Linked DNA regions of Homo sapiens. The gene in region 2 interacts genetically with the main gene of each other region. Each region holds a gene or a part of one and is shown on either strand. Other genes may lie near its edges.

Region 1 (3,572 bases), on a different chromosome or scaffold from region 2:
ACTGTCAGCCCAAGATAATAACAGTTATGATACAGTTGCCATTTATTGAGTCTTTGCTATGTGCCAGGTAATGATTAAAGATTTTTCATGCATTAACCGATTTAATTGTTATAACCACCCTTTGAAGTAGGTACAGTTAGTATGCTCTTATGCCCATTTTACAGATGAGAAAGCAGAGGCAAGAGTGTCGCTAACACGTGTGTGTTCCAACAGGATCTGTCCAAAACCCTCCTGATGTACACGGTGCCTGCCGTCCAGGGCTTCTTCCGTTCCATCTCCTTGTCACGAGGCAACAACCTCCAGGATACACTCAGGTATCAGAGAAGGGAAGGATGCAACTCTGGTAGGCCATGTTAATGGCAAGACCTAGAAGTCACACGTAAAAGTCCTCTTTCCCTTCCTGACCCTGATCAGGACACCCAAGATCGATGTATGTGCCTTTTTTCTGCACTGCATTTAAGGAGTAACAGCTGACTGGGCCCCACCTGTGTGGGTGAAACCTACAGAGAGTGAGGAGGAGAAGTGGAGTGAGAACTCTCCATGTGTGGTTTATTATGGAGGGATTATTAACCCATCTGTTAATCACAATATTTCTTTTTTTCTGACCACCCTGTTGCCTATTGAAGTCACAGTATTTCTAAAATCCCTCAGCAACTTGGAGAGGTCTAAACAAATGACTCAAATCAGTTAACCCAGAGGGTAAAGGTGACAAGGTCCACATCCTCCTTCATTTGAGGATCTCCAGCCAGCTAAGAGCCAGGTGTCCCTGTTGCCTCTGCCGTACAGCGACTCTTACATGTGCAGACTTGTGGCTTTCTAAAGGTTATCCTGGCTCGTCTGTTTGATGTTTGCATACATGCCATGGTGACCCCTCGGTGACCTGGGATGAAATGCTCATTTGCTCAGGGTGACTCTTACGGTGTTCAGTCAAGAGCACTGCCACCCATCACAGACACCTGCTCCCATGGGAGGCCAAACACATTTGAGAGTTACTGGTTGGAGTCCCTGCCAGCTCTCTTCTCAGGAGCCTTAGAGATGAAAAACAGGCAGGCAAAAACTGGGAAACTAAATTTTCTGTGACTTTCTCATTTCTTTTTCAGAGTTCTCACCTTATGGTTTGATTATGGTCACTGGCCAGATGTCAATGAGGCCTTAGTGGAGGGGGTGAAAGCCATCCAGATTGATACCTGGCTACAGGTGAGGATACTTGGTTACAGGTGAAGGTGGCTCCAAGTCTCTCTTCTGTGTGTCTCCTCTTACAAGCATGCTGTGTTCAGTGTCACAAGGCAGTGTGTGTTAATACAGTGCTAAGGAAGTAGGGCTCGGTCCCAGTGTCAAGTGTCCATATTTTCTTTATTTTCTTTTAGAAACTAAAGGGAAGGGAATGAACCATTTCAGAGCATCAACCGAAACAAGTTAAAAGAATTGATCTTTGCCTAGAAGAATAACTAGTTGTTTCAAGTCTCATATGCTACATACTGTGTCTTTTTGAATACCAGGTTATACCTCAGCTCATTGCAAGAATTGATACGCCCAGACCCTTGGTGGGACGTCTCATTCACCAGCTTCTCACAGACATTGGTCGGTACCACCCCCAGGTATGTGGAGACTCTGGGCAGTTTCTCATCTAACCACTGGTTTGGTGGTCAGCCTTTCCAAAAGCTGCCCTGGCGACACAAGCGCAGGAACTGGGAGCCATGTGTTCCATCCTGGCCCAGGAGGGTCTGTCCAGCCAGCCGTCCCAGAGGGCCCGGGAGCCTTGCTAAAAAGAAAGCGTTCCCTCGAAGACTGAGCCCCTTCCTGGTAGTCTCAAGCAGATGTTAATGTCACACTCACCACTTGTTTTGTTATTCTCCTTAAAATTCATACCAGCTCTTCCCCAACCCACATTTCCTTTATAGATGTTTCTTCTGTTTTTCCCTCAGGCCCTCATCTACCCACTGACAGTGGCTTCTAAGTCTACCACGACAGCCCGGCACAATGCAGCCAACAAGATTCTGAAGAACATGTGTGAGCACAGCAACACCCTGGTCCAGCAGGCCATGATGGTGGGTCGGAGCCACTGTGGGGCTTCATAGACCCTGGTCCCTTAGCTGGTGGGCGCAAGTGGGATTGTTTTTCTTCCTCGCATTGGTGCTGTGCACTTCCTCTGACTGCTGGAAATAGTACCTCCTGTGTCTCCAAAACAGACCTTTCTGAGGTTAGCTGATTCTTGATGCTTCTCTCCTTCTTCTCTTGGCTTCAGGTGAGCGAGGAGCTGATCCGAGTGGCCATCCTCTGGCATGAGATGTGGCATGAAGGCCTGGAAGAGGCATCTCGTTTGTACTTTGGGGAAAGGAACGTGAAAGGCATGTTTGAGGTGCTGGAGCCCTTGCATGCTATGATGGAACGGGGCCCCCAGACTCTGAAGGAAACATCCTTTAATCAGGTATGGGGTAAAAAACACGAAAGGACATAACCCTGTAGAAATATTCTGCCACTAAAAAAAAATGAAATGAGAAAAGTTTTTATAGAATGAAAGGACGTGACCCAAGGCCTTTGTCAGATTTCTTTTCCTCTGGCCTTTCCACTGACTTTAATAAAACGAGCTCTGATGGAGGTCACAGAGCATAAAACATCAGAAATTAGTTACAGGGACCCTTCTGAATTTTAACTGGAAAAGCCCAAGATTTCTCAAGAGGTCATCTCGTCTCTCCTCTCACCCTTCCTTCCCTATAAGCCATGCTGCTGGTTTGGAAGCTCCAGGGTTGGAGGCCTGCACCTATGCTCTTGCTTTCTCCAGCCCCCTGCCAGTGTTTTCAGGCCACAGCGGGCTCCTGAGGAATATCTGCAGTCAGCCTGGGGATTTTGCCTCCTGGGTTGGTTGAGACTTTGATAACTTGAAAACGTGCCTGCTTTCTCTCTCAGGCCTATGGTCGAGATTTAATGGAGGCCCAAGAGTGGTGCAGGAAGTACATGAAATCAGGGAATGTCAAGGACCTCACCCAAGCCTGGGACCTCTATTATCATGTGTTCCGACGAATCTCAAAGCAGCTGCCTCAGGTAGGATCTTCAGGCTCCTGGCAGGGTTAACTGTCATTATAGTCCTTTCTGTTTTACTGTCTATGAATGTTCTAACACTCATTCCAAAGCATCTGGTTTTACTTCTGCTTTGGGACAAGTAATTGTTATTAGCAATCCACTGAAAAATACTTAAATTGCGTTTAAATTCTTCCCTGGAGGCAGAACACTAAATCCTTTGGTAATTATTTACAGCTCACATCCTTAGAGCTGCAATATGTTTCCCCAAAACTTCTGATGTGCCGGGACCTTGAATTGGCTGTGCCAGGAACATATGACCCCAACCAGCCAATCATTCGCATTCAGTCCATAGCACCGTCTTTGCAAGTCATCACATCCAAGCAGAGGCCCCGGAAATTGACACTTATGGGTAAGGACCATTGTGCACTTCTGTCACCCACTTCTCCCTCCTACACTGGCTGAGACCCCTTCCCTCTTCTGAAATTACTGCTTGCCATTCCCACTACTCACCTATCATAGCTACATCTCTCCCATGCTCATTGAGAGGAAAA
Region 2 (5,328 bases):
CCAGGCTGGAGTGCAATGGTGCAATCATAGCTCATTATAACCTTGAAATCTTAGGCTCAAGCAATCCTCCCACCTCAGCCTCCTAAGGATCTGGTACTACAGGTATACAGCACCATGTCCGGCTAAATTTTTAAAAAGTTTTTTGTAGATATAAGATCTTGCTATGTTGCCAAGGCTGGTCTTGGAAACCTGGCCTCAAGCTATCCTCTTGAGGCCTCAAGCTGGCCTCTCAAAGTGCTGGGATGACATGCTTCAGCCACCACGCCCAGCTTTTTTTTTTTTTTTTTTTTTTTTTTTAAGGAGAAAGCTCACACAAAAGAAATAACCTTAACATTTTTCAAATTCTATCTAAACAGTTCAAGTTCCCTATTTAAGAAAATTTCTATTTTAATATTGAAAAAAGCAGAAATATTACATCCTCCAGGTTTCTGACCACAAGGGATTTTGTGGAAATCCCTTAATCATATCCTCCTTTTTTTCAAGAAGTCTCTCCTGTCATCATCCAAAAGCAGTATTAAGGTTTTTGGAACTTCTGTTCTAATTTGCAACTAACAGGCAACACAGGGGAGGAAAAATAACTGTAGCATCTGTTGTACAGAGTTTTCTTAGATCTCTGAGCTACTGATGAAAATGACTAATAGTCATCCAAGTCACATGCAGGCAAAGGCAAGGGCAGTCTCTTGATTCTAGGCAAGGGTCAGCAAGAGAAAGGGTCTTTCTTCTGATAGTAATTATTTGAATGACAAGATCAATTACTGGACAATTTCAATTTCATTTTTTTTTTCAGAATTGTCAGTCTCTTCATAAACCTTGTTTTAATGAGAAACATTTTTCTCCACACTTTAGGAATGGGTTAATCATGGTCCTCCTTAGAAAAAAGCTTAAAAATGGTAGTATCTATGTGTGTCAAATCCAATTTTTCTGAACACTTAAATTTAACTAAACAGCTAGTCTATAGTTTGCCTACACATTGACCAGAAGATTTGTAAAAATGTTTTTCTCTCTTTTGCTCAGAATAATAGTCCCATTAGAATTTTTATTACACAATGGAGAGGTTTCTCTCTCTCTCTTTAAAACCGCTATTTCTTGAGTAACATAAGAACCTGAATCCAAATCCTGACAGTACCATTTATTAGCTGTTTTTGCCTTGAGTCAATTACTTCATATTTCAGTGAGGCAGTTTTCCTCCTCTGTAAAACTGGGTAGAAATGTCCACTTCATTCATTCGCTATGCAGATTACATAAGATAACATATGCAAAGTGTTTCACCTACTCCGAAGTACACAGTAAATAATAAATAATAATGATAACTAAAATTAACAAGTTAAGAAATATATGATGCAACCATGTTGCAGGCTCTAAAATGAGAGAGACATTAAATCTGTTATTTGAAAATGAGAGTCAGGACAGATAAAATGATACATATTCAAGCTTACATAGTAAGAGGCAGTTGACTTAAAGTATAATAAAAAAAAAAAAAAATATATATATATATATATATAAAAAGATTCCGGGTTTCCTGACACCCAGGTTGTAACTCTTTTCACCTCTATGAAATTATTTGTCTTTTTAAAGCAATAGAAGTTATTCAACCCTACAGCCACAATATAACTATAACACAAACATGGATTACGTAGTTTTGAGTGGAATAATATGAGTACCAGGACATGTGTAGACACCCAGTACTTGATTCATTTTTTTATCGTTGTAGCAGAATTCCTTGCATATTTACTGAATGGATTCCAAAGATCACTTTGGGGTAAACCTGCAGGATAAATGCCTCAGATAGCAAATGTTGTTGGCTATTACCTTTCCTCTATAGGTTGATACTTTTCTTTATCATAAAGAAATTGTACCATACTTCTTCCCTAGAACTCAAAGTATGCCTACAAAAGCGCTTAAAAGGGTTATGCAAAATGAAGGTACAAACCTGCAAGTAACCCATCTCTATCAAATGTCTTTTAGCAAAATAAAATGAGCCATTTTCATATAATTCTCCATCCCAGTCTTGTCGACGAGGCCGTTTAGCTGGATTTAAATTCAGAGGTTCGGTCACTTCACGAACTAAAAGCAAAAAGTTAGAGTAAGTCCACGTTGCCCTGAATATAGAAAGTGTTAATTTAGTAACTAAAAAAGTTAATAAAAATGAACTCAGAATGCAGAGCATTTCTTTATCTAGATAAAGAACTTTTCTTTTTTTTTTTTTGAGACAGAGTCTCGCTCTGTCACCCAGGCTGGAGTGCAATGGTGCGATCTTGGCTCACTGCAACCTCCGCCTCCTGGGTTCAAGCGATTCTCCTGCCTCAGCCTCCCAAGTAGCTGGGACTACAGGCATGCACCACCACACCTGGCTAATTTTTGTATTTTTAGTGGAGATGGGGTTTCACCATGTTGTCCGGGCTGGTCTCGAACTCCTGACCTCGTGATCCGCCCACCTCGGCCTCCCAAAGTGCTGGAATTACAGGCATGAGGCACTGCACCCGGCCTGATAAAGAACTTTTTTTAGGCTGAATGTGGTGATTCACGCCTGTAATCCCAGCACTGTGGAGGCCAAGGCGGGCGGATCACTTGAGGTCAGGAGTTCGAGAGCAGCCCAGCCAACATAGTGAAACGCCATCTCCACTAAAAACACAAATTTAGCCGGGCATGGTGGTGGGTACCTGTAATCCCAGCTACTTGGGAGGCTGAGGCAGGAGAATCGCTTGAACCCGGGGGGGGGAGATTGCAGTGAGCCGAGATTGCGCCACTGTACTCCATCCAGCCTGGGCAACAGAGTGAGACTCTGTCTCAAAAAAAAAAAAAAGAACTTTTTTAAAGGAATAAAATCTGTAATAATTCTGATGATTTATCTTTGCTTTCCAATAGCTACTAGAAAACTAAAGTATTTTATAATGAAATGTGGAACAATTAAGGTATTCATACAAATATTATGCTTTGGGAGGACATCAAGACAACCTTAAAGTAGCTTTAAAAGAACTGAATTTGTCATAAAATACCTATATTAATATTTGGGCCCTTTAATCTAGTTCTCATTGTTTGCATATACAGAAATAAGTTTTATTTATCTAATGTGGTTGAGAACTTGTTTTTATACAATTATTGCTGAAAAGTAAAGATTTCTCCATTAAATTATTGAAGATTTTATATTGATGAAAATGTTTATGTAACATATTATACATTCTTACCATTAGTTAAAAATATACTAAACATAATAATAAATTATGTTTATGAGTATACCTGATAATAAAGGCTCAGTAATGTCAACATTAATGAATAGAACATAATGTAATCAATGAAGACTTTGGTACTGTCATGTAGAGATTCCTTTGCCTTTCCACTGAGTTTTCCTCAAATCTGTGTGTGTGTGTGTGTGTGTGTGTGTGTGTGTGTATGTGTGTGTGTGTAATAGCTGGTTACTCTCCAGAATCTTTCTTCACTTTTTGCTGCCATTTCTGTGTTTATACAGGCTTCTAGGAATAACCTCTACTTACTTGTTTAACGAAATCATCCCCTGTTCAATTCCACCCCAGTGTTTGAAATAACCCAGGAAAAAACCTTAGCAAATACAAATTAAATAGCTAGAGATAACATAGCTTTATGGGCACTGGCTACAGAGTAGTGACCAGAACTCTCTCTATTCTCAAAAAGTATACAATCTAGGGGTAGAGACAGGTAATAAACCAACTAGATAATTCAAGTGGTACTTTGAAGAAAAGAGAGGGACAAATCTTTCCTAGTATCGGTGGCTGCTTTCTCCCTGGTCATATCTGCTGAGTATGAGGAGAAGGTACAAGAAAGATCAAGCTTTGCATAATCAGAGGGACTCTGCTGAGGTAGGCAAAAACTAGAAGGGCTTTCAATGACCTTGTGGACTTGAGTTACAGATTGTCATCTGTAGGAACCACAAACATATAGCTCGTTTTTCCCCACCTAATGCTTCCCCCTTACAAGACTTTGGCTGAGTGTACTGGGTGGGAAGCTGGGAATGGGCTGGAAAGCAGGGAGACATCATAATAGTATTGTGGTCATCAGATCCCTTAGTCTTGTTAGCAAGAGTAGGGTATGGGTGTGAGTGTCAGTAACACATACAAGATGTATCTCCTAATAAGACACCTATACTAAGAGGTGAGATGAAATTAAAGTTTCAACCCAGCCCAACTCCTAATTGAATCAAAGTGATCAGCCCCTTATCCTATCTTCCTGATAGAAGAAAAGGTGTACCCTCTCTGGAGGAAAATATGTACTCAAGTGTCTATGCCAGATATACAATTAAACATGAGCCAAATGAAGAGGCAGAAATAGGTGACTCACAATCAAGAAAGAAGCAGATTACAGAACTGTAAGTGACTAGATGTTGAAATTTGCAATCAAGGACTTTCAAATAGCTATCAAAAATATGTTAAATTAGAGGAAATGACCTTTTTTTAAAATGGATAAAAAAATGGAAAATTTCAACAGAAAATGGAATCCCTACGAAACAACTAAAATGTACATTACTGAATGGAAAAACACAGTGTTTATAATAATTCTCTGGATAAGATTTATAGCACACTGGACATGGCAGGCAAAATGCCTAGTAAACCCTAGGGAACCCTTCTTATATATGGAGTTAGGAATTTGGGGAAGAACTTCAAAATGTCATTCTTGAAATCCTTCAGAACACTTTGGTGGATGCTTTCTATCTCTATATGACTTGTATGGAGTTCATCAAACATGTCTAGAACAAACATAAAAGTATTTGATCTAGAAAAACAGCATATCTGCCTCAAAAGGCAAACAGAAATAAGAGGATTAGAATGTCCCTTTGTAAAGAGTAAAGCAAAGAATTAATTTGGTCTAGCTGTGTTGGCTCGATAACAGATTTACAGCTGATTGTAAATGTCATTACCTACTAAAGTAATGAGTCAAATACTCTCTTTTACAGCTCCCCTTTTACTCTCCTCATGCCTAAAGGATATTTATATACAAAAAAATTGATTCTCAATAAAATCAGCTAAAATAAAGACTGAAAAGAGATTACCTCCTTTCTGAATTTCACTCCATCGAAACTGATGGCGTCTCACAACAGAGAAAACAGAATCATATCCTTCTTCTCGAATCATTTCTGCAACTTTTTGAAGATCAGTAGGATGTAAACATGGAGAAGTAGCTTGAATATTTCCTACAATGTCAACCTCTTAAAAAGACAAGAGAAATGAAAAGGATATTTAAAAAAAAAGTTCCTTGCAAGCAAGTAATATTAAGGTTTGGAATTCAAATGTTAAAACAAGTCTTATAAGATAATAAAGGAAGTAGAAAAGTACATAAAGGTTTGAATAAACTATTAAT

Evidence for each region.
Region 1: changes in CMAS (region 2) and MTOR together harm fitness more than expected from each alone (negative genetic interaction), as found in Homo sapiens cells (one large-scale study listed by BioGRID).

Annotation. Positions count from the first base shown.
Region 1 is NC_000001.11:11,126,480-11,130,051, reverse strand, and holds part of MTOR (serine/threonine-protein kinase mTOR), read left to right. Parts: intron 1-213; coding exon 214-314; intron 315-1,100; coding exon 1,101-1,197; intron 1,198-1,499; coding exon 1,500-1,598; intron 1,599-1,925; coding exon 1,926-2,048; intron 2,049-2,245; coding exon 2,246-2,428; intron 2,429-2,907; coding exon 2,908-3,042; intron 3,043-3,255; coding exon 3,256-3,430; intron 3,431-3,572. UniProt on the Homo sapiens protein: Serine/threonine protein kinase which is a central regulator of cellular metabolism, growth and survival in response to hormones, growth factors, nutrients, energy and stress signals.
Region 2 is NC_000012.12:22,055,303-22,060,630, reverse strand, and holds part of CMAS (N-acylneuraminate cytidylyltransferase), read right to left. Parts: intron 5,177-5,328; coding exon 5,021-5,176; intron 2,065-5,020; coding exon 1,931-2,064; intron 1-1,930. UniProt on the Homo sapiens protein: Catalyzes the activation of N-acetylneuraminic acid (NeuNAc) to cytidine 5'-monophosphate N-acetylneuraminic acid (CMP-NeuNAc), a substrate required for the addition of sialic acid.